2 separate regions of the Homo sapiens genome follow, and region 2 is linked to region 1. The links come from fine-mapping of genetic effects on gene expression. A gene starts in region 1. The other region holds a variant in brackets. All regions are shown on one strand. Distances are between the middles of the regions. Region 1 holds the start of BNIP1 (BCL2 interacting protein 1). Region 2 overlaps ATP6V0E1 (ATPase H+ transporting V0 subunit e1).

The links. PIP is the estimated chance that this variant, and not a neighbour inherited with it, causes the effect.
Region 2: its variant is the best candidate, but not a certain one, in a credible set for the expression of BNIP1 in lung (TOPMed, PIP 0.74).

What each region holds. Positions count from the first base shown.
Region 1 is chr5:173,133,982-173,149,742 of GRCh38, reverse strand. BNIP1 (BCL2 interacting protein 1) reads right to left here and starts at 5,212. Exons shown (of 6, transcript NM_001205.3): 1 at 5,114-5,212; 2 at 2,785-2,877. The coding sequence starts at 5,197. CREBRF (CREB3 regulatory factor) reads right to left here. Exons shown (of 9, transcript NM_153607.3): 9 at 10,459-15,761. RefSeq lists enhancers at 4,480-4,549, 4,491-5,019.
Region 2 is chr5:173,032,729-173,048,489 of GRCh38, reverse strand. It overlaps ATP6V0E1 (ATPase H+ transporting V0 subunit e1), which reads right to left. Exons shown (of 4, transcript NM_003945.4): 4 at 13,045-14,091. Among named protein-coding and RNA genes, the nearest start is that of CREBRF, 16 kb to the left of the region's middle. RefSeq lists a silencer at 11,414-11,483. The variant G/A (reference allele first, on the strand shown) is at 7,633.

The sequences.
Region 1 (15,761 bases):
TGCCATGACTGGAAGCTTCCTGAAGCCTCCCCAGAAGCAGATACTGCTATGCTTCCCATACAGCCTGCAGAACCTTAAGCCAATTAAACCCATTTTTTTAAATAAATTACCCAGCCTCAGGTATTTCTTTACAGCAATGCAAGAAAGGCCTAATACAAAACCCCAATACCACAAGACCAGGTGCCACAAGACCCATCCAGGGATGGTGATATGGTTTGGCTGTGTCCCCACCCAAATCTCATCTTGAATTGTAACTCTCACAATATGTCATGGGAGGTACCTGGTGGGAGATGATTGAATTACAGAGGTGGGTCTTTCCTGCACTTTTCTCATGATAGTGAATGAGTCTCATGAGATCTGATGGTTTTAAAAACAGGAGTTTCCCTGCACAAGCTCTCTCTTTGCCTGCTGCCATCCATATAAGACGTGACTTGCTCCTCTTTGCCTTCTGCCATGATTGTGAGGCCTCCCCAGCCATGTCAGAAGTCCATTAAACTTCTTTTTCTTCCCAGTCTCACGTATGTCTTTATCAGCTGCATGAAAACAGACTAATACAGATGGGCAGATCCATGACACCCACCTCACCCTCACTGAAGGTACAGCAGGGGAAACATCTCCACTATTCAAACTGCTACTTCTAAGAGACCTCCAGAAGTCTAGAGGAGCAGGCATGTTTCCACACTCAGGTACCTCCTGACTCTCCTAGGTCCCACTAGGGCAGAGTAAGTGCTAGTTCTCTGCCAACCCAACATTAGGTCCTGTGGCTGCAGTGAGAAGAATTCCAGGAGAAAACTCAGGAATAAAAATGGAGAACGTAAGACATCAGACTGAAATTACTAGAAACCCTCAGGAAATAAAGAAGGAAGAAGAAACCAAGAAACCAGAAAAACCATCAGAACAGTAATCAACCCTTGGAGTGACCAGGAGATCCAGAGTTCCCTAAAAGAATGCAATTATCTCAAATTTGAATAACTGAAGAAGAATCATGAACAATATAAAGCAACTGCCTAGTGCTTCAAGTAGAGGGGCATGAAGAGGAGCCGGCAGGAATGTCTCCAGATAATGACAAGTTTGCAGGACTTTTACTGAACTACTCATGAGGCTAAACAGAGGCCAAGGAGCCAACCCTGTTCCTGTCCTCAGGGAGAGGGCCTACACAGGATTCCAGGATACAGATGGACAGCATCTTTTTAAGTGTGCAGATGCAGTCATCCTTCCAACTCCTGAGTTCCAGCCCTGGGCCTGTGCCATCCCTATTCACTTTGAGGGGCTGCTGTGGGCCCCTCTACCCATGAGCTGCATGCAGGATCCTTGGATGCCCAGATGGCAGCCTTGAAACATGACCCCTCCATAGTCAGCTCCATACGTGTTTCCTCTCAGCAGCCCCCAGACCCACAAGTGGTCTTCATCCTCTGATTCTGATCTAGATTCTGAACTTGGAAACAATTAGAAGCTGAATCCCAATTCTGTCTGAAAGCAACACAATAGTCTGGGCTCATGCCTGTAACCCCAGCACTTTCAGAGGCTGAGGCAGGAGGATTGCTTGAGCCCAGGAGTTTAAGACCAGCTCAAGCAACATAGAGCAAAAAATCCATCTCTATTAAAATATATATATATATATATATATATATATATATATATATATATATATATATATATTTTTTTTTTTTTTTTTTTTTTGACACAGAGTCTTGCTCTGTCACCAAGGCTAGAGTGCAGTGGCACGATCTCTGCTCACTGCAACCTGCACCTCCTGGGTTCAAGCGATTCTCCTGCCTCAGCCTCCTAAGTAGCTGAGATTACAGGTGTGTGCCACCATGCCCAGCTAATTTTTGCATTTATCAGAGACAGGGTTTTGCCATGTTGGCCAGGCTGTTCTCAAACTACTGGCCTCATTTTCATTTTTAAAAATGAAAGCAACAGAATAACATGATCTATACAGTGGTGCACAACTCTTTGCCCAGCCCAATGTAATAAGAATAAAATGTGAAATAAATAAAACAAACAAACATAACTGCTACTTGTCACCCTCTAGTGTTTTTTGAGACAGCACATATACCATACTTGAATTCAGGCATACTAAATGTGTATATGATGTGACTGGTGACTATTGAAATAAGGAAGATGCTGAGCAAAGTAACAGCATAAAAAAAAACCCAGGAGTGTGATGGATTGAGGTAGTGAATGAATGAATAGGGTAGAAAGAATGGCAGAGAAGAGAAAGTATTTGAAGTGGCCCCAGGATTTCAAAAATTCCAAGGATAATGGTGTTCCTGCCATTCACTCGTTCACACAGCTGGCAGTGTTCTGCATGCAAAAGTTTCTTGTTTTTTTTTTTGAGACAGAGTCTCGCTCTGTCGCCCAGGCTGGAGTGCAGTGGCTCGATCTCGGCTCACTGCAAGCTCCGCCTCCTGGGTTCACGCCATTCTCCTGCCTCAGCCTCCTGAGTAGCTGGGACTACAGGCACCTGCCACCATGCCCGACTAATTTTTTGTATTTTTAGTAGAGACGGGCTTCACCGTGTTAGCCAGGATGATCTCGATCTCCTGACCTCGTGATCTCCCCGCCTCGGCCTCCCAAAGTGCTGGGATTACAGGCGTGAGCCACCGTGCCCGGCCAAAAGTTTCTCGTTTTTACCTGGAGAGCAGGTTAGTACAGAGTCACCCTCCCTGTCTAAGTGTTTACTGCTCCCATCAGCTGGTGTTTGAAGAACCCAGACGGCTCTCAAGCAGAGGATATACCCAGGACAGAGCCCCCTTCATTGACTGAATTGAGAATACCCACCTGTATTCTGTGACGCAACTGTTGAAATTTCTCTTTTACTTTAGTATTCAGTTCAGTAAGAGCACTTAAGGGTCCTGAACAATCACGGATATCCTAGGAGACATTGAACAGATGAAAGGCCTTTCTCAAGGCAATGAAATGAAATGACACCATCCATACAGTGATAGAGTTGGTTTAGACCAACTAATATTAACATACTAACTATAATTCATCCTGATCTTTGCTGTTTACCTCTGCAACACAAGCAAAAACATTATCATTTACATTTTTCTCATTCCTTTTTAGATTAATGTTGAATTAATATAAAAGCCTAGAAAGAAACACAACTGCTTTGACCTAATTTTTAGTGCCTAAATTTTAACAAAACATTACCTGGCCAGTAGGAAACAGCTTAAAACAGCTTGTATGCCCAACAAGAATGGACATGCAAAAGTGATACTATCACTTTAGAACCTTAGATCCTTCCAACTTGGAAGATCAGGATGTTTAAATATCTGGCATCATATGATGAGATTAACTTCTCCAGTGTGATTTTACAAACCATTAGTGATAAGTTAGAGTGTTTATATAGACATGTTTAAGGGCAGATTTAGAATCTGTTGCTGGACATTCAGAATTACTGGTGCCAGCTTTCACGGCAGGCTCTGGAGACAGACCAGGTGGATTCGAATCCTGGCTGTAGCAACTTATGAGCTGTGTAAAGTTACCTGGAAAGTTATTTAAATTCTCTGTGTCTGAGTTTCCTTATCACAACACTACTTACCTCATAGAACATCATAGATTATGTATGTATGTAAAGCACTTAGCAGAGCTGCTGGAAAACGGTAAGAACGCAATACATCCAGCTATAATCAGTCTTTCTCATCAGCAATGACAAGAACCCAAATGTTAGAAAGAGTACAGAAGAATGCCTAAGCAATTTAGATTATGTGAAAATGTAATTTCATTTGTATGAAACCTGTTTATTTTTCTATAATTGGCCCAGAAGTTTTGTAATGTATACATCAGAGAAGTGAAGTTCAAGAAGTTTTAAATATCTGCATCAAATTTCACTTTTTCTCTGGCTTATTCATTTAATCACACTTCTTTGCACCGTATTTGTTTATTCTGCATCTAATTTGGTTTATTCTGCATCTGGTTTATCTGGGGAGCCCTATTTTCCTGCACTTTTTGCCACACCTTGTTACAAACTCTGAGTCTACATCTAATGTTTAGTGACTTTGTTGAAAATGATTATTTTTAAAAACCAAGGTTTAGGCCGGGCGCGGTGGCTCACGCCTGTAATCCCAGCAATTTGGGAGGCCGAGGCGGGCGGATCACGAGGTCAGGAGATCGAGACCATCCTGGCTAACACGGTGAAACCCCGTCTCTACTAAGCAAAACACAAAAATTAGCCGGGCGTGGTGGCGGGTGCCTGTAGTCCCAGCTACTCAGGAGGCTGAGGCAGGAGAATGGCGGGAACCCGGGAGGCGGAGCTTGCCGCGAGTCGAGATCGCGCCACTGCACTCCAGCCTGGGCGACAGAGCGAGACTCCGTCTCAAAAAAACAAAAACAAACAAGCAAAAACAAGGTTTAAAACTCGGTTTCTTTTTGCTGAACTCATGGAACCGTGTCTACACTCCCAATTCTTGCCTAAGTCCACTCGTTTATTTTACCTCTACCCTTAAATGGCTTAAGGCGAAACACTTCATTTCCTATCTGTTCAAACGGGGTAACACTCTAAGGTGTTATTCCTAGGTTGACTTTCACAGTCCAGGTCCCAGTTTTGCCACTGACCCAGGTATGCCTTCTAACCTAGGCCTTGGCGCCGTACTCGATTTCCTCAAGCATAAAATCACAACTACGGTCCAGGTTACATTCGTTTCACCCGGTGCCTCCCGTGCCAGGTGGCCTTGGATGCCAGGAGAGCTGGCCAGCAGGGGGCGGGGCTAGCTGCCTCCCGGACGCTACCAGAGGATGCTGAAGCAGCGTCAGAGGGCGGGGCCAAGCAGGGTGACAGGTAGGTTGTGAGGTAGTCAGGGGCGGGGCGACGACCAGGGCTGCAGGTGGAAGGGGCAAAGCCGAGCCCCGAAGCAGTAGCTGAGTCAGGGGCGGAGAACAGTGGGGTGCTCTGGGGATGGGAGATCCGGCGGCACCCGGAAAAAGGATCAAGGCCAGCAGTCACCGGGACACAACCAAATGGGGACCGGGGGGGTAGCCGACCATGGGGCGGAGCCTGTGGTCTGGGAAACCAAGTGGGGAAAGTTCGGGAGTGACACTGCCAAGCTCACAGACCAGCAGAGCTTGGGTTAGGGCTGCTGGAGCCCGGCAGGGGTCCCGGGATCAGTACCTGAATAAGCGCCTTCACCTCCAGGTCAAATTTGACAATCTCTTGGTTACAGATCCGGACGTGGACGTCTTGGGGAGCCGCCATGTTGGGGACGCCGGCTACGGGCAGCGGCAGGACCCAAGTTCAAACGCGTTTTCGCACCACCTTCTTTCCCTCCCCACCCAGTCTCGGGGCAGCGCCCCCTAGAGACCGGCGAAAATGGCAAGCGAGGGTCACTGCGCAGAGTTGGGACTTTCCCTGACACGTGTAGGGAAATCAGCCTCTCCTCTTGGTATGGCCCTAATAACATGGAGAGGAAGGGAAGAGGGAATATCAAGAACGCTTCACAGTGGTCTCTTTCCATCTTCCTTCTGTCAGGCATTCTAATAACTATATATTTTTTACATAGAAAAAAAAAGACTGGAAGAAAAGTATCAATTGAGATGTCTCTGGAAAGTACCAGTAATAATTTTTTGTTTCTTCAAACTTTCTTATATTTTTAATATTTTCTACAGTGAGTATAAATTGTGGAGTAAAAGAGGAAATGATAAACGTCATATATTTTTTAAAGTATGGAGTTCAAGGCAGGTCGGTAGAGTACCTCCTATCACTCCAACACATGATCTAAGGGATCTTTGTAAAACACGAAATTGATCAAGTCACCTACCTGTATGCAGCCCTTCTATGGCTTCTCGTGTTTCCCTTTTGTATACAACTGGATTTATTAAATCTACCTTGCTAAGGTAGTTTTGATGGAAATGTCAGAGCAAACCCTCAACAAATGGTGGCTCTTTTATTTTTGTTAGTAAATAATCCAAGTTTCTTAGCTGGTCCTCAAGGCCATCAGCCACCCCGGCCATCAGCCACCGCACCCTGCGCCCTTCCTGGATTGCTCAAGCTCCTTCTGGATGTGTAGCCTTAGAATGTGGTGTTCCCTCTCCCTAGAAAGCGTTTCCCCCACTCGACCCCACTCCATCTGCATTTGTTCGGGTCACTTCAGCAAGCATAGATTGTGAGGACCTAAAGGCTTAGGACTTGAATGTTCATCTCTCTCTCTTTTTTTTTTTTTTTTTTTGTGGCGGAGTCTCGCTCTGTTGCCCAGGCTGGAGTGCAATGGCACAATCTTGGCTCACTGCAAACTCTACCTCCCAGGTTCAAGCAATTCTCCTGCCTCAGCCTCCTGAGTAGCTGGGATTACAGGTGCGTGCCACCATGCCCAGCTAATTTTTGTATTTTTCATAGACACGGGGTTCACCATATTGGTCAGGTTGGTCTCGAACTGACCTCGTGATCCACCCGCCTCGGCCTCCCAAAGTGCTGGGATTACAGGCGTGAGCCACTGTGCCCGACCATGTTCATCTCTCTTAATCCTCACAACCACCCTTGAAATTGTACTACACTATTATCACAGATCAGGAGTAGGGCTTAGAGTAAATTAAAACAAAAAACAATCAACCCTGTTGCAAGATTACCTATCTTGAAAGTGGCAAAGCCTAGGCCGGGCACGGTGGCTCATGCCTGTAATCCCAGCACTTTGGGAGGCCGAGGCGGGTGGATCACGAGGTCAAGAGATCGAGATCATCCTGGCTAACACGGTGAAACCCCGTCTCTACTAAAAATATAAAAATTAGCCGGGCGTGGTGGCGGACGCCTGTAGTCCCCGCTACTTGGGAGGCTGAGGCAGGAGAATGATGTGAACCCAGGAGGTGGAGCTTGCAGTGAGCCGAGATCGCCCCACTGTACTACTCCAGCCTGGGCGACAGAGCAAGACTCCATCTCAAAAAAAAAAAAAAAAAAAGAAAAAAGAAAGAAAGAAAGTGGCACAGCCTCTACTGAAAGCCATCTTTTCCCCAAAAAATCAATATGGTCCCCACCTGTTGTAAGCGGGGCTATGTGCTTGTCTGTGTCCCTACAGCCCTCTACACACCCTCTCGTAAGGTATTCATCACCCCACTGCACCTAATAGAGAGGCAGTGTATCACAGGCTTGGCATCTGCCTGGGCTCAAATCCTGTCCACCACACACTTCGCATGCCTGTGCCTCTGTCTCCTCGGAAGCTAACTGGTGATAATCAATTGCGCCTACTTCACAGGTTGGAGAATTAAATGAGAAAATACATGAAAAGCACCAAGCACAGTGTGCTAATGTGGCATATAGTAAGATCTCAATGCCCGTTAGCTGCTGTTATTCTACTACTAGCCCACATTTTGGGAGCACTTCCTATGTGCCAGGAACTTTGTACTAAGCGCTTCATGTGTGTCTCGCTTAACTCTTACAACAACTCTGTGAGGTAAAAACGGGGCAGAGAGGAATAATGACTTGCCCAGAGCAAATGGAGTTGCTAGGTCAAAGGATATATGCATTTAAAAATTCTGACATATTACCAAATTGCTCTTCATAGGGATTATGTCAATCCATACTCCCTCCAGCAACATGGCATAAATGCCTGTTTCCCGTGGCCTTGTCAACAGGATAGGTTAACAAACATTGGAAGTTTTGCCAATCTGATTAGGTAGAAATGCCTTCTTTAGTTTATGCTTTTCTGATCATGAAGGAGGCTGAGAAACTCTACCTATGCTTCAGAGCTATTTGCATTTATTCTATTGTCTGCTCATTGTTCTATTGGGTTGTTGGTTTTTTTCATATCCGTTTCCAGGAACTCTATATATTAGGAGGATTAGTCCTTAGAGATGAGTTTCAAAGCTTTTCTATTTTCATTTTTTTTTAAAGACATCTACAGCCTTAAAAAGTCTATAGAACTTTGATTTAGCTTATGGTTTTTGTTAATCTTGTTTTACATTGAATTTATCAATCTTCGTTTATGATTCCTGGATTCGTGGTCCAAATTACAGGGATTTAAAGGGATTGCCCACATTTCCTTGTAGTGTTTTTATGGGTGGTTTTTTGTAGCTTTTTTTTTTTTTTACACTTAGATCATTATCTATTTTGAAATATATGTTGGCTTATGGTGTGAGATATAGACCCAATTTTACTTTTTCCGGAGGTTACTTAGTTATTCCAATACTATTTAATGAAGAGTCTACCTTTTGCTCACTGGTTCTGGATGCCACATTTGCCATACTAAATTGTCGTATATGTTTGAGTCTACTTTTAGACCTTCTATTCTGCTTGACTGGCCTATTCATGTATCAAAATTAGTTTTAACTATTATGGTTTTATAACGACTTTTAGTATCTGCTAGGATTAAATAACTCTTCCCCTTGTCCCCTGCATCACTGCCCCCTCAGCCCCACTGCCTACCAGCATCTTCCAGCTATTTTATCCCTGTGTAAACTTTTTTTTTAAACCCTCTTGGTATGTTTTCTTAGGATGACATTTTTTAGCAATATTATATTTTTAATTTAACTTACCACTGTTAGTTCTATGTCACTGCTCCTGTGTAAGAACTTGGTGTATCTTTCAATTTATTCCAGTTTCCTTCTGTGTCCTTCACAGTACTTTCAAAGTTTTCTTTATCCTAGGCCTTGTATACATTTTCTGTTAAGTTTATTCCTGGTAATATTTTCAGGTTAAAACCTTTTAAAGAAACTGAGGTTTACTTTCTTCAGGTCACTCCAGTGTTTTGGATACTCACATAGAAGCCCCCTGTTTAGGACAGCAGAGAAGCCCCAAAGCCAGCAGCTGGCAGACCTGCAGACGTGCCCTTGGGACCCCGTTCACATCATGCTTCTTGTTGAATATTCATATGCAATCAACAGTCCCCAGTTGCATCTCTTATGCTGCAGCTAAAGAAGAAAACATAAGCTCCCTTTTTCTCTACCCTCCAATATACTTCCTTCCAATAAGGGGACCCAATCCTAAACCTTAAGCTAGAGGCCATCTTCGAGGAACAGATGTGCAGTCTGGTGATCATTACACGCAATCACTGATTCCTCTCAACTCTGTTTTGCTTCCCCTATCACCTTTACCCACTGATCCTTAGACTAGCTTTTGTTTATCTGCTAGGTTTTGGCTTTCTTTTTGGTTTTTAGATTCTAAGGCCTTTATCCCCCGCTACAGAGACATCCTTCCAAATATTGCCTGTGACTTGACCTGATCCCAAAGAGATGAATACAAATTATTTCTGTAGTGCAGCAAGCCGACTGGAGTTGAATTGGAGCTCTATAATCATATAAGGTAGGTCTGGGGCTAGTCTCCTCATCTGAGTCTTGTCTCCTGTAAAATGAACATGACCACCAGCCTCATTGGGCGCTTGAGAGTAGCAGCTGAGTTTCCTGTAACAAAAAAGCACCTAGCAGAGTCTTAAGGAATGCCACTCCCTCCCCTAGGGCTTTCTAACACCTTCTTCCTGCTCTGAACCTTTTAGCTGGGATATTATAGCATTTCCCAGCCATTTTCTTTCTTTCAAATTCTCCACTGTACTGTGGCTAAACAGCTCACCAGCTGAATGACCCAGCTAACTGGATGCTATCCACAGGTTTAGTTTCCTAAGGACTATACTGGTCTGGCTCACCCAGCCCTTTAACAGTCTCAAGATCTTGACAGAGGATCCTGTGAGCAGTGGTCTTTAGAGATCAAGTCCTGATGCAGAACCAGTCCATGGGAGGCCATGCCCCTCCCCTTTGCTTCCTGATGGCCTTAATGTCACTCACATGAAACAAAGAGGGTTTCTTCAAGGGTCCAGGATACTAAGAACCCAAGTCTATCAATTCTCTAATACACCACTGGATGTGTCCATGAAAACACCTCAGCAACAATAATGTGCCTAGAGCCCTTTGCATATCTGTAACAGCTCCTGTGTTGTTCTGCAATCCTGTTCACATGCTGGCTCTGAGTTCCTGGAGTTCTCTTTCATCTCTCTATTGTCCAGTACCTAGCACAGGTCCTGGCAGAGTAAGTGCTCAACAAATATTTGCTGGCTGACTTTCAGCCACATACTCTGATGGAAGCCTTCACTTAGGTCTCTGGATTTAAGCCTCTATATATACGCCCAGCTTAGTTTGGAGACTTACTTAGAGTGATTAAACACACAAACACATACAAATGTTTAAATCAGGAGAGACCCAAAATATTTTATTTCCCATGCAGAACACTTGCCCAAAGATTAAAAGAGGAGAAATAAGAATATCCTCTAAGCTGTGAAGAATGCAAATGCTTACATCAACAAATAATTCTATATAATAGCTAAATGTCACTAAAATATTGAAAAATCAACCTATAGTGTCAAAAAAATGTTAGCTCTTTGATTATTACCACGAGAGGGGCAGCAGACCAGCAGTTCACCACTCTCTGTGATTTGGAATTTCTTTGGAATAGGTTATCTTGAGGAGCGGATGGTTACCTAGGTAAGCAAGATATAAGTACAGAAAGGAAGGGCGAAAACATGAGGCAAACAATTCAGAACGTTTTCTTTTCATCTTTTTTTATTTTAAATTACAAAGGATGTTGCATACACTGATGAATCTGTATCTGACTAGAAGTGCTCAGGGGTTGGAAGGTGACAGAAAACAAAGGCAAAATTTGCATTGCCTTTCCATCTGAAATGAAAAACTGCACAACTATTAACCAACATTTAATAGGATAATTTTTAAACAGCTCATGCGTCAACAAGATAAAGTTCTTTCTAGACAAGAGACAAGACTGAATCCAATAAAAAGTGTCATAGCTCCAGTTGGGAGAGAAAAAAAAAAAACTACAGAATATTTATGATAGCATTACAAACAGGATCCTACGCAACTATGCAAAAGAGGTTGCCACATTGTATGAACAAATGCTTTGAATTCTTGCCCTTCCACTCTTCTCTTGTGACTTCTGTGCTGTCAGCCCTAGTATCGCTGTCAACCACAATACTAAGCTGTAGGACAAATCCTAGGGAAAGAAGGTAAAAAAGCAGGCAGTGGAATACAGTGTCATAAAAATGTGGTGGAAAGGCAGATACAGTACACACATACACATTTCTGTTATTTGGTTCTGAAAAAAACAAAGGGCGAAGGGCAAGACATAGTAATCAGTCCTGCTCCTATCCACCCAGAATTTAATTAACTACACCATTGTGTTTACATTGTTATGAAAGAGGCAAACCGAACCTAGTTCACCCAAACTTGGCACATTGAAATACCCAACTTTGATGTTCTTCACTAGTTACCAAGTCTTCAATTCCAAAATACTGTTTGGAAGTAGTTTTAAGGCTCTGTCCCCTCACTACTACCTCCAAAACTCTCTAAACAAAAATGGCAATTTGGCCTAGCTCAGTTCCTAGGTGTAATTTCTACGATTTCAGTCAGTTTATTAAGCATGAGGACTATGCTTCAACACATAATCCCATTTGCCTATGGAAGTGTATAACTTTCAGTAGTACATTTTCATCATCTTTCCCCAACATGCTTATTCCTTAAAACGAAACCACCATTCCTACAGTTGACATTCATTGTTACATCCCAATGTGTTTGAAGTATTAAAAAAACATGGAGTCGTCTTCTCATAATGCCCTTATTAAGATTACAAAGATTACAAAAGAATCCACAAGTATTACGGCACTGTGTGAGACTTATTTGTCATGATCCAAGGGAAGAACAAGACTGCAGTTCTGTGCAAAGTTGTGGAAATGGCCTCAGTTCCATGGGAAATGGTATTCCACAACAGACTTCACTAGAAGGATAATTGAAACCTTTTACTTTAACACTGAAAGCATAATTCAATGCATTCTCAAAATTCAAGTTTCAAGATATGGAGAGATGCTAACATTCTGTTACATAATTAACTAGAAAATACTTGAACAGAATTTTAGGAAACTATATAAAGAAAGGGAACATAAGTTTTTGTTAATTCTTGCTGAAGGCAACTTGAATTCATTTCTTATAACATTAAATCTTAGCAGCTAAATTTTTTTAAATGTGTGGAATAAAGAAAAGCACATCCATTCTTGACATTTTGGTGAATAAACTAACAGCTTTATTAATGAAGGCAAACATCAGATCATTGTATGAATATTATATATATATATAAAAAGAAATCCAAACTAACAGCATTGTATTTCAAAAGTACTGTACTTCTGTTTCTTTTAAAGAGACTTGTCATCTGTTTTTATAAAACAAAATGGGTACTCTTCTCCTAAAAAATCCTGGAAAAATGAAATAGTCAATTTCAAGCTGATGAATTGAACACACCTTTCTTTAAATGCAGACTATTGCTAGGAAGCAAATAAAGTCAAGCATCAGAAAGAAGATGTATGAGAAATGCATGAAAGTCAGAGAAAAGGGATGTAGTGAAATTACTGCTAATCTTTCCCCCCTATATTCAAAGACCATCCAAAACTGGTCTTTCATACAAATATAAAATAACTATAAAGAGAGGGAATTTGAAACCATACCCATCTGAAATCCTTCATGATGCTTTTGTAATAGTTCTGATTCTCTTACCAAAAAGGTCAAAGTTAAAGATGTAGGAAGTGGAAGGGAATGAAGACGTTTAGTTTTAAATGTACAAGTAAGGCACAATATAAAGCCACATCATAATCTGTCATGAAGGATATAGGAAAGGACAAGAATCATACATGGTACAGTAGAACAAGCAATTATATTGACTGGAAAAGTGTGGCACCCAATTCAAAACTCAGACAAGATCTTAACAAGAGCGACTGGACAGCATGCTTTCATATGGAGACAAACTCTATAAAGAATCCAGTGTATCTGAAACTAGGAAAAAAGGTTTTTGTTGGTTTTTTTTTTTTTTAAATCATAGTAGTACTAGAGTCAAAGTTTATAATTGCTTTGGAACAATGGGTTTACTTGAGGTGAATTCACAATGCCTTCACTTAAAAGTAAGATTCTGGACTTCATTATGAGCTATCTGTATACCATGTATGAACACAGAAAACCTTTAGAGAACTCTTCTCTAATGATCTTCACCCAAAAATACATGCCACAATTTTCAAAAACAGAACATGTACAATTGTTGGGGTTTTTACATTACCCTTATAAGATTGGTTTGTGTGATACACTAAACGTATATATTTTAATGACAATAGAGGAAGCAGATTATTACTGGCATTAAAGTACAACCATTTCTAGACGGTTTTAAATGCCACAGAGTCCCCTGGTTAAAATGTAAAGCTGCACAGCTTGCCTATGTCATCTTTATGATAAAGTTAAAACAGCAAGAGGATTTAACTTTCACTCTACATTTTACTGCCAGGTTTTTATATAGATCAAGTATCGCTGCAGCATTCTGACCAGCCCAGATTTAGCAGCAAATGGCAGGAATCATATAAAATGCAATTTTTTTTTAACAAAGTGCTTTTCTAAGATATACATACATATATAAATAGGTACAAAATAAAGTGTCAACATTAAAAAGCTCAACTATTTAAAAGCTTTTAACTATTTAACTTAAGTAGTACATATAAAACACTGAAACTCAAAGATATGGAATCTACTAAACAGATTCAAAGTCTTTTTTTTTTTGAAATGCAAGACCAAAAAATCAAATTCTGGTTTGCAGACAGGAAAAAAGTATCAAAAACCAGAATTCCTAACAGAGCAGCTAGAAAGGGGCAATTTTATAAACCTTATCAGCTGAATATCATGAGGTGATTTTCACCTGATTGCAAAACTGCCATAGTTTGAAACACTTTTCAATTTACCAGACACACTCTGTCAAGACTTCATATACTTCCAACTTGCAAGCCTGTGTTTTGCCTTCTCCAACCTAAAAAGGAAAAGCTTTAAACGATGAACTTACATTCTATTAAACCATCAGACTTGAGCTTATCATCTGTTTAGCGTGAATGTACAAACCAGGTACATTTCCACCAAACACATAGAAAAATCTTGTGCATCACAGTTCAGCTAAGGTGGTAAGACAATCCTTACAATCCTCCTTGGATTTCTTTTTTAAGATGTCAAAGAAGCAGGTAAGCAACATTGTTCATTTGTTACTGGGTGTTCTAGATCAAACCTTCACAAGCTATATATATAGCTTCATATGCTATAGCTTACAAATGGGGTAACAAAGTAAAAGAAAAGAACAAATTATACTTTGACACTTTATAGTCAAAGTATAATTAAAAAAGAAATCCTACAGTGGGTAATGGAGAAATAGATAATTTTTCCAGCAGCTATGCCTGAAATTTTTGGTATTTTTTTCCTTGCTAAATATGCTTTTTTTCTTTTTTTAGTTTTTAAGCCACCAGTTTTCAGAGTTCAAAGCACAAGATTTGAGAATAAAACAGTAAGAGAGACAGGATGGAAAAATCTGTGGGGGAAGGTTTATAATGCTGCCTTGACATAAGAAATTTCTCATCAAGAGGTAAAGCTTGAACACAGTTAAAACACTGACTAATGAAGCTGTTTTATATGAGCAAAAAAGAGCACCTAAAAACTAAATGTGTTAATGTTTCTCAATTCTAGAAACTATAGAAGAATAAGTCACATGTTAAGTTTGAAGAAGCTAGTTTGAAAATACCTGTACAAAAATATAAAAATCTATAAATTGTTTTTGTTTTAGCCTGTGTTGATCTTTGAAAATATTACATGCACAATAATACATCAATCGGAAAAGTGGCAACTAAAGAATTAGATATTTTTAGCTTTTTTCTTTCTTTACATATATATATATACATAATACAATAAAAATAATCTATTTTGTTGTCTGGTGGAAGTATACTACAATAAGCTAAATAAACATTTTAATTTTCAAAGTCAAAAACTATTTTATCAATAGCTTACTAAAATGAAATATATTAAAATTTCCTACAATAAGTGCAGAAATAAAAGACATCTAAATGGCCACCAACTTATCTACTATGGAAGCGAACTAGAGGAACAGCAAAATAATATTTGTATGTATGGATGCTCCTTCTGTAGATAATTGGACCCAAACAGAAATAAAATTCACAGTTCAGTAAGATCCCTAACCCTGACCTTTTTTTTTCTTTTTTTTCTCCTTTTTTTTCATACATTCATACAGTATCATGTAAGCTGTGCAAAACTTTACTTAGACTGGCAGTTTGCCATATCAGTTGCATTTGTCTTTGGTACAAAAAATAAAACAATCGCAATAATGTGCAAGTATTTGTCTTCTTCCGGTCAAGTACCGAAATATGAGTTTTCTAGAGCCATCTTTTTTTTGTTGTTTTTTGTTTTGTTTTTTATACAATACACAGACTCTGTGGCATATATCTACATTTCAACATAGTCCTATATACATTCAAAAAATCTGAAAAAGAGTTGGAACAAAAAAACATTTAAACCCCATAATTTTTCCATCTATATATCTTGTTTTTTCTCATTAGGGTTTTCATCATACAAAATATTACCAGTTTTAGAGTTTCCCCAAAATACAAGGCACAAAGAATATGCTTTTTTTTTCTTACTTGCACAGACATTTGTGTGTGTGTGTGTATATATATATATATATATATATATTTATATATATCATCTTGAGCTCTGACAATGAACATCTAATATGGCCCACAGGCACAAGTGCTGGGTGTGCCATATACAAGTGAGATTAATGGTTGTGGAAAATTAGAACAAAAAGCAATAATTCTAAAAACAATTTAAACCGACTGTTTAAAAAAATGCTTCCTCAATTTTTTTGTGTGGTTCAGAGCATAAATCTGCCACAATACTTGGCATTTTACTATTTCACTCCTCCAAAATGTTTTGCTTTAACAGATTTTTGTAATCTGTACCTAACATTTACTTAA
Region 2 (15,761 bases), 100 kb after region 1:
TGAATCCAGGAGGCAGAGTTTGCAGCGAGCTAAGATCGTGCCACTGCACTCCAGCCTGGGCAACTCTGTCTTTAAAAAAAAAAAAAAATTGATTTCCATCCCCATTGTTCCTATAGACAGGATCTCTGACATTAGAATCATAAGACTTTTGTTTAAGGCTCACTTAAGATGTTTTCCAGACCCCAACTCCAGCTCCCAGTTTGAAGACCCCCACAGAGGAACGGGATCAGCATGACAACCCAGCTTCTTCAGCTCTCTGTCCCATGACTTCAGTCTGCACTCTTCAACCCATCAGCCATCTCCACACTTTGGCCCACTCCAAAACCCTTAAAAACCCTAGCCCCAAACTCCTCAGGGAAATGGATTTAAACAAGGGTCCTCTCCTTGTTTCATGACCCTATGATTAAACCTGTTTGTCTGCTGCAACCTGGTGTCACGATGTATTTATTGACTTGCTGTGTGCATCAGGTAGTGAACCTATAACAGTTGAGATGGGAGAGTTCCCTGAACCCCTTCGGGGGACTTGTGACAGGGGCGTGGCTTGCTTACTCAAACCCCTTGCTGGAGGGAGAGCACACAGGTGAGCGGGTGCTGGGGCCAGGGCGAGCGCTTTTGGACTCAGGCCCCATGGTAGCCTCTAGGGGTGTGTTACAATTAATGCTCTTTTAGCCCTTGCCGTCCGTGGACAGTTAAGTGTTAACCAGCTCAGTGGAGAGTCAGGGTGACAGCCTTTTACACCCTGCCCTCTTGGCACCTGGGTTCTTGTCCAGCATCCAGGAAGAATCAGGTCACACAGACTTGAAGGATGGTGAATGTGGAGGTTTTATTGAGAGATGAAGGTGGCTCTCAGCGGGATGGGGAGGAGGAAAGTGGATAGAGTGGGAAGGAGTTTGGCTGCAGACTAAGCAGCTGACCAGCTGCCTCTTTGACGTTCAGATGCTTCTTCTCTTCTCTCCTCTGCCGCACTGTTCTGCTTTTCTGCCAGTGGAGTTTGGGGTTCTTATGGGTACAGGATGGGGGGTCTGGCAGGCCAGGGTGGTTTTGGAAAAAGCAACATTTAGATGGGAAAACAGGGATGTGAAGTTCTCATTTAGGGCCCCAGGCCCGGGGTTGTGGGTGGGCCTTTGCCAGAGAACCGCTCTCTTCTACCCAGTATTTCCCTGCCTCCTGTCCTTATCACAGTTACATAATGTCCTTAGGCGCTGGCACACAATAAGCACTAGGTAAAAGATGGCTATTGTTGGGCCGGGCACAGTGGCTCATGCCTGTAATCCCAGCGCTTTGGGAGGCCGAGGCAGGTAGATCATGAGGTCAGGAGTTCGAGACCAGCCTGACCAGCATGGTGAAACCCTGTCTCTACTAAAAATACAAAAAATTAGCTGGGCATGGTGGCACGGTGGCACGCACCTGCAGTCCCAGCTACTCAGGAGGCTGAGGCAGGATAATTGCTTGAACCAGGCAGGCGGAGGTTGCACTGAGACAAGATCATGCCATTGCACTCCAGCCTGGGTGACGTTGTTATTGTTAATAACCACGGCTCTGAACTTGGCTTCGGGTCTGACGAAAGTCATAGACTTGCTCTCCAGGAAAACACACACGAATATACACACCCCTAATTGTGCAGGTGCTTTCAGGGGGTTTACAGATAGGTGTGGATCCCAATTAGGACCTGCTGATTGACTAGAGAGTCTCCTTATAATATGCAGTACTAGCTGCATAATTTGTGGGGCTAAGTGCAAAATGAAAATGCAGGGACCTTGTTCAAAAATTACTAAGAATTTCAAGGCTGGGCGCTGTGGCTCAGGCATGTAATCCCAGCACTTTGTGGGGACAAGGCAGGCAGATCACCTGAGGTCAGTAGTTCGAGACCAGCCTGACCAACATGGAGAAACCCCATCTCTATTAAAAATACAAAATTAGGCCAGGCACAGTGGCTCACGCCTGTAATCCCAGCACTTTGGGAGGCCGAGGTGGGCGGATCACAAGGTCAGGAGATCGAGACCATCCTGGCTAACACGGTGAAACCCCGTCTCTACTAAAAATACAAAATTTTAGCCAGGCATGGTGGCGGGCGCCTGTAGTCCCAGCTACTCGGGAGGCTGAGGCAGGAGAATGGCGTGAACCCGAGAGGTGGAGCTGGCAGTGAGCCGAGACCACGCCACTGCACTCCAGCCTGGGTGACAGAGTGAGATGCCATCTCAAAAAAAAAAAAAAAATACAAAATTAGCCAGGCATGGTGGCGCATGCCTGTAATCCCAGCTACTTGGGAGGCTGAGGCAGGAGAATCACTTGAACCCAGGAGGCGGAGGTTGCGGTGAGCTGAGATTGCACCGTTGCACTCCAGCCTGGGCAACAAGAGCCAAACTCCATCCCCCCGCCCCCACCACCACAAAAAAAAATTGCTAAGAATTTCAATACAAGAGCAGAGCATCAAACCCAGTGCAGGGGCCTTCTAAGCAAGGGGCCCTGTGTGACTGCCCCATGAAATTCACCCTCTAAGATGTTAGAGGTCCAGGTCAGACAGTTTTACCATCCTTTAAGAAAACTCAATACCTAGAGACTGGAATTAAAAAAAAAAAAAAAGGTGATCTCTCACAAGACTTTTTTTTCCAAGCCAACTTGCAGTGAATGAACATTTACTGAACAGCTTTTTGTGCAAGATGGTAGGGATCAAACTCGAACAAACAAGGGATCCTGCCCAGTAAAGCTTCTGCAGCCCCTGGGAAAGACAGAGTTATGTACAACTGTGATAACGGAGATAAGCAAAGGTTGCTGTGGGAAGCAAACAGCGCACACCTCTGGAGGGAAGGAGGCGGGGCACTGCCTCCAGGACATGCCCCTGGAGCTGAGCTGAGAGGGGTGAAACTTTCCAGGCAGAGGCAGGTGAGATGAGGCGATGCTTTCTCAGGGACCTGCACCGTCTATCCACATGCAATGTAACACTGGAAAATCCCATTCCGACCCCATGCTTCAGAAACGCTGGCAGAGAGCATGAAGTGCTCACCCTCCCTGGGACTTGCAGGTGCCGGCCCCCTTGGGCAACTCAGGAAAATCAAGGAAGGCCCCTTTATTGCATGAGGGCATTGAAGTGTCACCGGAAAAAAAAAAAACACAAAGAACTACCTTTGGGTCTGATAGTCTGCCCCAAAGGCAGGGGATTAGCAATTCCAACCCTGTCTTGTGGGGAGCTGTGGAGAGAGGGGAGCTGGAATCCCAGGGATGGCAGGAAATTCATTCTGAGGACATTCAGAACCACAAGACCCTGCCCGTTCCCAGGTAGTAGGTTTAGGATTCTCCAAATGGCCTCTGGCCTCATTTTCAGAAAGCTATTGGCTTCTTAATGGAAGGTATTAGAAGAACCATGTGACCTTTTGGGGCTAGGAACAACCATAGGCACTGAAAGGTTGAAGGTGTGGCCAAGAAACTAAGGCTACAAGACCGTCATCGATGGGTAAAGTGAGGAATTTTACCTCAGAAAAATGGAGCCTCAGTGACAGCCCTGAACCCTAAAGTCGGACTCCCCTGGGTTTAAACCCCATTTCCTCTAATTAACACTGTTAAATAAACCATTATAGGAGGCCATTGTTTTGGAATAAGCTCCTGCATTAGGCCCCGACAGACCAGGCTAAAAATCAAAATGGAGGGCCGGGCACGGTGGCTGACGCCTGTAATCCCAGCACTTTGGGAGGCTGAGGCAGGCGGATCACCTGAGGTCAGGAGTTCGAGACCAGCCCCAACATGGCGAAACCCCGTCTCTACTCAAAATACAAAATTAGCCGGGCGTGGTGGTGCATGCCTGTAATCTCAGCTACTCAGGAGGCCGAGGCAGGAGAATTGCTTGAAACTGGGAGGCGGAGGTTGCAGTGAGCCGAGATTGCGCCATTGCACTCCAGCCTGGGCAACAAGAGCGAAACTCCATCTCAAAAAATAAAAATAAAAAATAAAAATGGAGTCAGCCATGTTAAAGTTCCAGATCACCAAACCTGAAGAGTTTTCTGACCTTGCAAGAAATCAAGAGAGACAGACAACAACCAATTTCCCAAGAAGACCAGTTCCAATCTTCAATCAGTATGATAAGGGAAGTTCCTCTGCCTTAATCCTTTTTTTTTTTTTGAGACAGAGTCTCGCTCTGTCACCCAGGCTGGAGTGCCGTGGCGCGATCTCTGCTCACTGCAAGCTCCACCTCCCGGGTTCACGCCATTCTTCTGCCTCAGCCTCCTGAGTAGCTGGGACTACAGGCGCCCACCATCACACCCGGCTAATTTTTTTATATTTTTAGTAGAGACGGGGTTTCATCGTGTTAACCAGGATGGTCTCGATCTCCTGACCTCGTGATCCACCCGCCTCGGCCTCCCAAAGTGCTGGGATTACAGGCGTGAGCCACCGCGCCCGGCTGCCTTAATCCTTAAACCAAAAAGGTATCCTGAAGTAAACCAATGTTACTAACCAGTGACATTCCTATTGTTCTGTCTAAAAGTAACTAATATGCTCTGTTCCTTCCTTCTGCTTTCTCCAGCCCCTCTCTGTGTGTATAAAGCCAAGCTCTTCTGCTCAGCTCTTTGGGACTTACTGTTTTATGGAATGAAGTGTTGCCTGATTCTAGAATTGCAAATAAAGCCAATTGAAATCTTTAAACTAGTTTGTTATAATTTGGTTTTTTGACAACAGCTTGGAACATTGGGCCTCAATTTCTTCATCTATAAAATGAAGATAATAAATGTATTTAATAGGTTTTTGTGAGGATTAAATGAGTTAAAATATGTGAAACATTAAGAATAATATCTGTGGTCTGGGTGTGGTGGCTCACGCCTGTAATCCTAGCACTTTGGGAGGCCAAGGCGGGTGGATCACTTGAGGTCAGGAGTTCGAGACCAGCTTGACCAACATGGTGAAACCCCATCTCTACTAAAAATACAAAAATTAGCTGGGCATGGTGGTGCATGCCTGTAATCTCAACTACCTGGGAGGCTGAGGCAGGAGAATCACTTGAACCCCAGAGGTGGAAGTTGCAGTGAGCCGCGATCACACCATTGCACTCCAGCCTGGGTGACAAGAGCAGAACTACATCTCAAAAAAAAAAAAAAAAAAAAGGCCAGGCACGGTGGCTCACACCTGTAATCCCAGCACTTTGGGGAGGCTGACGCATGTGGATCACCTGAGGTTAGGAGTTCGAGACCAGCTTGACCAGCATGGTGAAACTCCATCTCTACTAAAAATACAAAAAATTAGCCAGGCGTGGTGACGCACATCGTAATCCCAGCTACTCGGGAGGCTGAGACAGGAGAATTGCTTGAACCCAGGAGTCGGAGGTTGCAGTGAGCCAAGCTCGTGCCACTGCACTCCAGCCTGGGCAACAGAGCGAGACTCTGTCTCAAAAAAAAAAAAAAAGTTAACATCCGTATGTGGAACTGCTATGTGTTAGGTATTATTGTTAGCCACAGGACTGATAATAATGATGAAAAAGTAGGAAAAAAAAAAACAGCTGTAAGCGGCTCCTAGAATCTCAGAAATGGGCAGCTTGGCTGTCAGGTGAGTGAGGGCTGGTTGGAGTCCCTGTAAACATACCAGCTGAAGGGCAGCCAAGCTGTTGGAATGAGAGTAGGTTTGATGTACTGTTGATCTGTTTATCCAGCTATAAAAGAGGTACAATATGTGTCCCACTTACTTCCTAGGATAATGTAATGTAAAATACTTAATAAGCTGGGGGTGAGGGTGGTGCCGACAGCTATCCAAACCAGGGCCATTTACAATGGCTGCCCCTTACAGAGTCCTCCTCTTCCCTTGTCCACCCTTAAGAGTGGGTGCCCCTCAGGCCTGCAGCTTAGACAGCCTCTCCTCTCACTCTACACACATTCTTCCTGGCCCTTATCCACACCCACAGCTTCCATTATCTCTGCATTGGTGCCCACATTCTAACCTCCAGCCTGGTCCTTCTTAACCTCCAGGCCCAAATAACAATTGCCCACTGGGGGTGTCCCTGCATGGACACCTCAGGTCCCTGCAACTCTTTGTCCACAGCTGGACTCCACTGTGTCCCTAAGCTTGAAACCATCTTTGCAAAGATTATGATCGTGACAGAAATCCAGCATTGCTGACTCCATCTTGCTTCTAACCTCACCAGCTGACCATCTTTGCTCATTCCTGTGTATAGGGCAAGAAAACTATGGGAGGAATTTAGTTTATAGTTTAACTTTAAACAAAGATAACGAACCTCTTCATCACACAGGGACTAAACTGCCTTCATAAAACTAACAGATTAACCACAAGGTCAGAATTATGGTCCAGGAGTCATGTAGCTGGAGGTCACAAGATTTGTAACCCCCTCAATTGTTCCTATAGATAACGTCACTATCGTAGAACCTACGGCTGGTGTTTGAGGTATCTTTCAGACCTTGTATTTTGATGGACCAGCTGGCGCCACTAGGATGGGCAACCCATAACCCAGAAACTGACCCAACTGGTCTTGTGACCCCCGACCCAGGAACTGACTTAGTGCAAGAAGACAACTTCAACCCTTTATAATTTCATCCCCTACTCAGTCAGCACTACCCATTCCCTAGCCACCTGCCCACCCAGCTTTCCTTTAAAAACTGTAGCCTCAGAGGGCCAAGCACGGTGGCTCACGCCTGTAATCCCAGCACTTTGGGAGGCTGAGGTGGGTGGATCACGAGGTCAGGAGATCGAGACTATCCTGGCTAACACGGTGAAACCCCATCTCTACTAAAAATACAAAAAAATTAGCTGGGAGTGGTGGCGGGCGCCTGTAGTCCCAGCTACTTGGGAGGCTGAGGCAGGACAATGGTGTGAACCCGGGAGCAGTGAGCTGAGATCGCACCACTGCACTCCAGCCTGGGTGACAGAGCAAGACTCCGTCTCAAAAACAAAACAAAACAAAACAAAAAAACTCTAGCCTCAGCAGGGCGCAGTGGCTGACACCTGTAATCCCAGCACTTTGGGAGGCCAAGGTGGGCGGATCGCGAGGTCAAGAGATCAAGACCATCCTGGCCAACATGGTGAAACCCTGTCTCTACTAAAAGTACAAAAATTAGCTGTGTGTGGTGGTGCGCACCTGTAGTCTCAGCTACGCGGGAGGCTGAGGCAGGAGAATCGCTTGAACCCAGGAAGCAGCGGTTGCAGTGAGCTGAGATCGCACCATGCACTCCAGCCTGGTGACAGAGTGAGAATCTGTCTCAAAAATAAAATTAAAATAAATAAAATAAAATAACTCTAGCCTCTGAATTCTCGGGGAGGCAGATTTGAGAATGATTTCCAGTCCTTCTGCTTGGCTGGCATTTTGATTATTAAATTCTTTTTCGGCCGGGTGCTGTGGCTCACGCCTGTAATCCCAGCACTTTGGGAGGCCGAGGCAGGCAGATCACAAGGTCAGGAGATCGAGACCATCCTGGCTAATGGGGTGAAACCCCGTCTCTACTAAAAATACAAAAAAGTCAGGCGTGGTGGCAGGCGCCTGTAGTTCCAGCTACTCAGGAGGCTGAGGCGGGAGAATGGCATGAACCCAGGAGGCAGAGCTTGCAGTGAGCGGAGCTTGCACCACTGCACTCCAGCCTGGGCGACAGAGCGAGTCTCCATCTCAAAAAAAAAAAAAAAATTATTTCTCTGCTGCAACACTTC[G/A]GCTGTTCTCAGTGCATTGGCATTTCTGGGCAGCAGGCAAGAAGAACCCATCAGGCTATAACAAGTTTGTTGTATCCCCTGTGCCTCCATCCTAGTAAAGGGCTCCATCACTCAGTCAGAACCTGGTGTAATTCTCAGCTCCTCCCTGTCCCTTACTGCCCCCACATAACTAATCACTCAACGGAAGTTTATGTGTATTAACTAATAATTATGGCCCCATTGTAGCTCCTTCTCCTAATTCATTTCCATTACCACACTCCAGGACACTTATCTCTCCTGGACTCCTGCAACAATTTCACAGGTCTACTGGAAATACCGCAGACACTCCTCTCTGCTAAACTCTTTTTTAATTTTTTAAAAATTTTTTTGAGATGGAGTCTCACTCTGTCCTCCAGGCTAGAGTGCAATGGCATGATCTCGGCTCACTACAACCTCTGTCTCCCAGATACAAGCGATTCTCCTACCTCAGCCTCCCGAGTAGCTGGGATTACGGGTGCATACCACCATGGCTGGCTAATTTTTGCATTTTTAGTAGAGACGGGGTTTGGCCATATTGGCCAAGCTGGTCTCAAACTCCTGACCTCAGGTGATCCTCCCGTCTCGGCCTTCCAAAAGTGCTGGGATTACAGGTGTGAGCCACTGTGCCCGATCCTCTCTGCTAAGCTCTTACTCATCCTTGGGGTTTACCCTTAAAGGTCATTTCCTACAATAACCTTTCCTCCCACCACCAGTTTAATGTTTCTAGTGCTTATTCTTACCTAGCAACCGGTACTTCCCTAAGACACAGCACCTTGCTTCCATGGGGTCCACCCACCAGAAGCACCAGCAGCACCTGGGAGCTTGTTGGAAATACAGAATCATTGCTCCCATCTTGATTTAATCAGAATCTGTTAAAACACAATCCCCAGGCAATCTGGACGTTACCATTTGAGAAGCACTGGTGTAGCATAAATAACCATTCATTATTACTGTTTAATTCTCTTCCCTGCTAAACTCTAGGCTGCAGGAGGTCAGGTTGCTGAGTCTTTTTGCTCAAGCAGCTAACATCAGGACAAAAAACAGGAGCTGAAAATACCTGTGCAACCTGGTTGAATCTGGCTGAACTACTTTTTCAACCTGTTGTTGAAAAGCATCTGCAGCTTGGACAAAGTCACACTTAGCTTCTTAACTCACCCTTCCTCAAATACAGGCTTACTTTGACAAAATATCTACTCTGCTTGTTCTGTTTTGGAGTGGCAACCCACAGTAGTACCACACTGTGGACGGTGTAAAGAAACCATGGAAACCATGTCAACATCCTGACAGAAACTGAAATGGAATCTTGATTGGATTCATGGGGGCGGCAGTATTAGCTGCTGAGCATCCTCAGCTACTGGAATATCCCCTTCTTTTGGAGCTGGCTTGGGGGCAGCGGGATTTGGGAAAAGAGGGCCAATACATTTCATTGAGATGGGAGTCTAACTGAAGCAGGGACAGCCTGAAAGAAAGCTTTGCTTGGAGCAGCTGGGCATAGAAGAACAGTGGGGCTTTTTCTAAGCGGTGTGGGACCCCAGAGCATTAATACCCTAGGCTTCCACTTTTCTATGTGGGAAGAATCAAAATCAATGCTCCCTTTTCATTTCCCCATGCTGTCACTGTGAGCACCTATACAAAAGGAGGTTAGAGTTTTATACACGGAATGATCAGTGCTCTGTCCTGCACAATGAAAACAATCACAATTTCTGTGTGAGCTCACTGATTTTCATTGATTCATAATAGCTTCAATGTTTTAATAAATCTAGCTGACTGCATTTCCCCTGACCCTGAATAACTTTTTTAAAAAGTGTGTGTGTGCACTAAATTATATTTGAAGGAAGTACTAACACTTCTGACAATGATGCCCTCAAAAATATCTTTTTTTTTTTCTGATTATAAAAGTAATACATGCTGTTTATGGAAAAGTTGGAAGACACAATATTGTAAAAGAAATAATCACTTTTGACATCTTGGTCTGTTTCCTACCAGGCTTTTTTCTATGTATAGCTGTTTAAAATCCTGTTTTATTTTTTTTCTTGTAACATAATATTCTGGCCATTATCTTTTGCTATTAAATTAACTTCCATTGTTTCTTTTTACTACACTATTACATTTTCATTGGAAAAAATGCTGAAAAGGAAAAAGAAAAATAAGATGACTTGTAATTACCATCTAGAGGCAAGCAACGCTAGTAATTTTGTTCTCTTTTCTGTCTCTTTTCTAGGCATGTATTTTGAAAACAAAATTGATTTTACTTCATTTGGATGCAGCAACATGATTTAAACAGCTCCTTACGTCGGCATTAGGTTATTTCTAGTCAACTGTACTGAGATAGGTATTATTTACAATGTTTTATGTTGCGCTTTCCTTTGAAAATTATGAATTTTCTGCAATTGATTTCATCCACTCAACTCTTGAGAGAAAGTTGAAATAAAAGGGCCAGGGGAAAAGTAACACATAACATTTGCTTTAGTCTCCATCTCCATTTTGTTGTTGTTGTTTGTGAGATGGAGTCTCACTGTGTTGCCCAGACTGGAGTGCAGCGGTGCAGTCTTGGCTCACTGCAGCCTCCGCCTTCCAGGTTTGAGTGATTCTCCTGCCTCAGCCTCCCTAGTAGCTGGGATTACGGGCACCCGCCACCATAGTGGGCTTTTTTTTTTTTTTTTTTTGAGACAGAGTTTCACTCTTGTTGCTCAGGCTGGAGTGCAATGACACCATTTCGGCTCACTGCAACCTCTGCCTCCTGGGTTCAAGCGATTCTCCTGCCTCAGCCTCCTGAGTAGCTGGGTCTACAGGCATGTGCCACCACGCCCGGCTAATTTTGTATTTTTAGTAGAGACGGGGTTTCTCCATGTTGCTCAGGCTGGTCTCAAACTCCTGACCTCAGATGATCTGCCCTCCTTGGCCTCCCAAAGTGCTGGGATTACAGGCATGAGCCACCGTGCCCGGCCAATTTTTGTATTTTTAGTAGAGATGGGGTTTCACCATGTTGGCCAGGCTGGTCTTGAACTCCCAACCTCAGGTGATCTGCCTGCCTTGGCCTCCCAAAGTGCTGGGATTATAGGTGTGAGCCATCGCGCCTGGCCTCCCTCTCCATTTTAAACACATATATTCTCCCAAACCAAAAAGAATTTTTGCATAGAGGATGGAGTATGAAACTGTTCTAAAATGTGTAGACATATATTTTTAAACATAATTTATGTTAATAAAGGAGCAATTGACTCTTGCCAAATTTTTCATGATTCTTGGCAACAATTTTAAATCATTTCTCAAATTCTAAATTTACTTCAGCATGACCAAACACCTACCGTTGCTTAAAAAAAAAAAAAAAGGCTAAACAAGAAGGTGCTACTTTTGAAGCAACATCAAAGGAAAGATAAAATATTATTAAGTTGGGGTAGTGACACACGTCTAGACATCATTATATGTTTAAAGAAAACAACAAAAACAGTGCTAAAAGAAACCAATCAATCCTCACACTTCATCTTCAAAATCATGCCAGAAATACTTCTATCCTGGTATAAGAGTTGGTAGAACCTGGAAGGGCAGGAAGGGTGTGGTCCAGCCACTTAGGCTCTGGCTCTGAACTCAGGCCTGGGGGCCTAATAAGGGTGCCTTTTATTTTTCTGTAAACCTCTACCTCCAAGTACAAATGACTAATCAAAAGTGTAACCATAGGCCAGGCACAGTGGCTCACGCCTGTAATCCCAGCACTTTGGGAGGTCGAGGGTGGGCGGATCACCTGAGGTCAGGAGTTCAAGACCACCCTGACCAACATGGTGAAACCCCGTCTCTACCAAAAATACAAAAAATTAGCCAGGCGTGGAGGCAGCCTACTGTAATCCCAGCTACTTGGGAGGCTGAGGCAGAACTGCTTGAACCTGGGAGGTGGAGGCTGCAGTGAGCTGAGATCGTGCCATTGCACTCCAGCCTGGGCAACAAGAGCGAAACTCTGTCTCAAACAAAACAAAACACAAAGAACCCAAAGTGTAACCCTACGTAGAAAAAAAAAATCACTTGGCTGTCCCTCTGGGTCCTATCTGAATAGAAAAGTACTGTCAGTGTACCCTGGGGATTTGGTCATTTATTTGGAAAATACTCTTGATGTATTATTATAATTCACAAATCACCTTCCCCGCCAAAATCTCATTTGGTAACAACTTCGTATAGTAGAAAAGGTATGCATTATCCCTATTTTACAGATGAAAACACTGAGAGTCAGAAATTAAATGATTTGCCCCGTTACACAGCTAGCGAGTGATGGGAGTAAGATGGCAAACCTAGGACCTCTGCTAATCTAGTGATTGTCCCAGGAGGCCACATGACGTTCGCCTGGAAGGGCTCTGGAGCGCAGGAACATTTTCGGTATCCTCTGAACGGGCTAAATGGAGGTCCTTCCAGTCTGGGCCCTGACAAACACTGGATGGAGTGTGGCAACGGTCAGGAAAATATGATTCACCAACATCCATCTCCGATGCCTAATCATGTTGTTAACAAACAGTTCTGCTATTAAGGGTGAGGTGACGAGAGAACATGTGCCTGGGTTTAGGTATTAATGGCACTGAACCTTCTCAAGAATTTAATAAATGAAACAACTAGGGCTCAAGGGTGAAGTGACTTCCTGAGCAAAGGGAATTTACCGAGTTTCCTCTCATAAAACCTGAGCTGATTTCGTCATTCCCACATTTCAACAATAGTATGATGGCAGGGCGCGGTGGCTCACACCTGTAATCCCAGCACTTTCGGAGACCAAGGTGGGCGGATCACGAGGTCAGGAGACCAGCCTGACCAACATGGTGAAACCCTGTCTCTACTAAAAATACAAAAATTAGTCGGGCGCGGTGGCAGGTGCCTGTAATCTCAGCTACTCAGGAGGCTGAGGCAGGAGAATTGCTTGAACCCGGGAGGCAGAGGTTGCAGTGAGCTGAGATCGCACCACTGCACTCCAGCCTGGGCGACAGAGTGAGACTCTGTCTCAAGAAAAAAAGAAAGAAAACATGGATCTTACTCCCCTGTCTAGCTCTGACCAACTGCATTAAGCTGGGCGAGAAATTCTCCCTGTCTGGGCTCAGCTTCCTTATCCATAAAATGATGGGGTTAGCCTATATCACCATAGCCCCCTTCAACTTCAAATCATCAATGTTTCATGTATTCCATGAAATTAGCTAATGTGGCCCTCCTGCTGGAAACGTAAAGCATGGAGTTGCCTAACAGACTGCGCAAAACAAAAGTAAAGAATGAAAAGAAACGAGAGCAGGAGAGTCACTTCAACTTGAAACTCACTTTGGTCATAAGAATAGCAAAGTAATGAGTTCAGACAGTTTGGGAGGAATAGAAAGTAGAAACTGCAAAACAGGAAATCCATTCTTGGCTGGCTGTCAAAAAGCCATGAGCTGGTGAAAATTTAGGTTCATTTTAATTTTTAATTTCTTAAAAGTAATAAAGCTCTCAAATTAGTGTATCGAGATGCCTGCTACTGAAATACAAAATTACTGTCTCCTGCCCCTGGCTTTTTAATCACTCTTGACTTCTTTAGTCCTATGTCTGAGGCTGTGATGGTTCCATCTCAGGAGCATTTGCTGCCTTGTTCTGCAGCTGGCAGGTAACCTTGAACTGCTCACCATGGTACCATCTTTAAGGACAATGCTCCAACACAACCTTATATTACAGTTCTATGTATACTAACCTTATCTCTCCAAATAGCTTGTGAACTTGCAGGGACTCCAAATTTACACATCTTTGATCCCTCCAGTGCCTTGGCTGCAGTAGGCACTCAAATAGTTACTGAACGATTAAGAAACGCACTTACCAGTCTTTTCAGGCATCTCAAGCTACATGGCAGGGTTTATATACTCAACCTAAGTTTAGACTACAAAATCATTTTTTAAAAAGGCATTATGTAGCGATAGAAAAGCTTATAAAAATGAACTTTACAAACACCGAGCCCAGATTTCCATAGAAAGGAGGAAAATATTTATTCCAAAAGATGGCAGAAAGAAGAAATTCATCCTGAAAGTATAGTTTGGTGCGATTCTGTTGAGATGGCTCTTCCCTCTGAACGTGCTCTCCTACTGACCACCCCACTGGAGTCTTGTTTGTCTTGCAGCAGTTTCTAAACACTTCACTGATTCCCACGTGAGAAGGCAGGAGCCATCTTCAAATCCACAGATTCCAAGGAGAGAGTAACGTATCTCTCAGAAGAACAGCATCTTCTATCTCAGAAGAGTACATAATCGTTTTGTGGAGTCGGCACAGTTCAGGTTATGGAGGCACGTAATTCACCAAAGTGCAAAAAAGGCAAAGGAAAACACGCTGCATTGTAGAATAAGGCATTCAAATGTGCTGTTAACGTTTAAGGCAGCTAATGGCCAAAACAGGCAAGTCAAGAAAAGTGGTCTGGTTTGGAGGTGATTTTGCATCTAGAAGGCATTCTCTTCTCGTGACCTGCAAAACAAAACCATTCTGGTAACTGGTCCTCATACATTCCTCAGGAAGGCAAAAAGTTAACATCGAGAAAGTTAACCAAGCCAACACTTTAAAATGCACAGATGCTCAACAAAATATGAAACACAGGATAATCAACTTGGTGCAAGTTTGGCCAGGTTTTGCAGGGCTGTGGCAAAAGGTCCAGTAACCAAGGACACTGCTGAAATGAGGAGCACAAGTAACACTCTATGTTACAGAAAGCAGGAAGAATGAAGCTGACTGAGATTGATTGTGCTGGAATCTAATGAATTCACCGCAGTTTCAAGAGTCTGTATTTTTCCCTTCCCTCTTATAGCATGGAGGGGAGGTTCCGCAGGCATGGCGAACTCTGCTCTGGGGCCAGGCTCCTGGGGAGCGGGCTCCTTGCATTGGTCTTGTACTGGAGGCTGCCCTGTAGCTTGCTCCCCGTTCTGGCTATCTCGAGTGTAGGTGACAAATGACACTTTTCTTTTTCTAGCAGCTTAAATTCAACACCATCTTTTTTTTTGTTTTGTTTTATTTTTGTTTTTTTCGGACACAGGGTCTTGCTCTGCCATCCAGGCTGGAGTGCAGTGGCGTGATCTCGGCTCACTGCAGTCTCAATCTCCTGAGCCCAAATGATCCTCCCATCTCAGCCTCCCAAGTAGCTGGAACTACAGGTGCACGCCAACACATTCGGCTAATTTTTATATTTTTTTGTAGAGACAGGGTTTCACCATGCTGCCCAGGTTGGGCTCTAACTCCTGGGCTCAAGCGTTGTGCCCATCCTCGCCTCCCAAAGTGCTGGGATTACAGGCATGAGCCATCATGCCCTAAACAGACTATATTTACAATGTACTAGGAAAACAACATCAGGCCAAGGAGTGGTAATTACCAGAGCTACTTGTTTCTTGTAGTAGTGTGAAAGCCTCATAATATCTTTCACTTAATCTAGGGATAATTTTCTGTTCTCTTCCTTAGGCCAGCAGAACAGCCTCTTTGTACAAGTATCAGTACCAGGCAGATTATAAATTTAGGCCAGGCGTGGTGGCTCACACCTGTAATCCCAGCACTTTGGGACGCCAAGGCGGGAAGATCACCTGAGGCCAGCCTGGGCAACATAGCGAGACTCTCTACAGCACGATGACACACACCAGTAGTCCCAGCTACTCCAGAAGCTGAGGTGGGAGGATCACTAGAGCTCAGGAGTTTGAGGTTACAGTGAGCTATGATCATGCCATTCTGCACCCCAGCCTAGGTGACAGAGCCTGACCCTGTCTCTAATCAATAAATAATATTTTTTTCAGACAGTCTCGCTCTCTCACCTGCCCTGGAGTGTAGTGGCCACAAACACAGCTCACTGCAGCCTCGACCTTCTGGACTCAAGCAATCTTCCTGCCTCAGCCTCCCAAGTAGCTGGGACTATAGGCCCACGCCATCATGCCCAGCTAATTTTTAAATTTTTCATAGAAATGGGGTCTTGCTATATTGCCCAGGCTGGTCTCAAACTCCTGGGCTCAGGTTTCCTCTTGCCTTGGCTTCCCAAAGTTCTGGGATTACAGGCATGAGCCATCACACCCAGCCAATAAAATAAATTTTATCTGAGAATACTGAAGTAGTGAATACATATGGTTTGTCTGTTAATTTTCCATGAAGAGCACACTGATTAG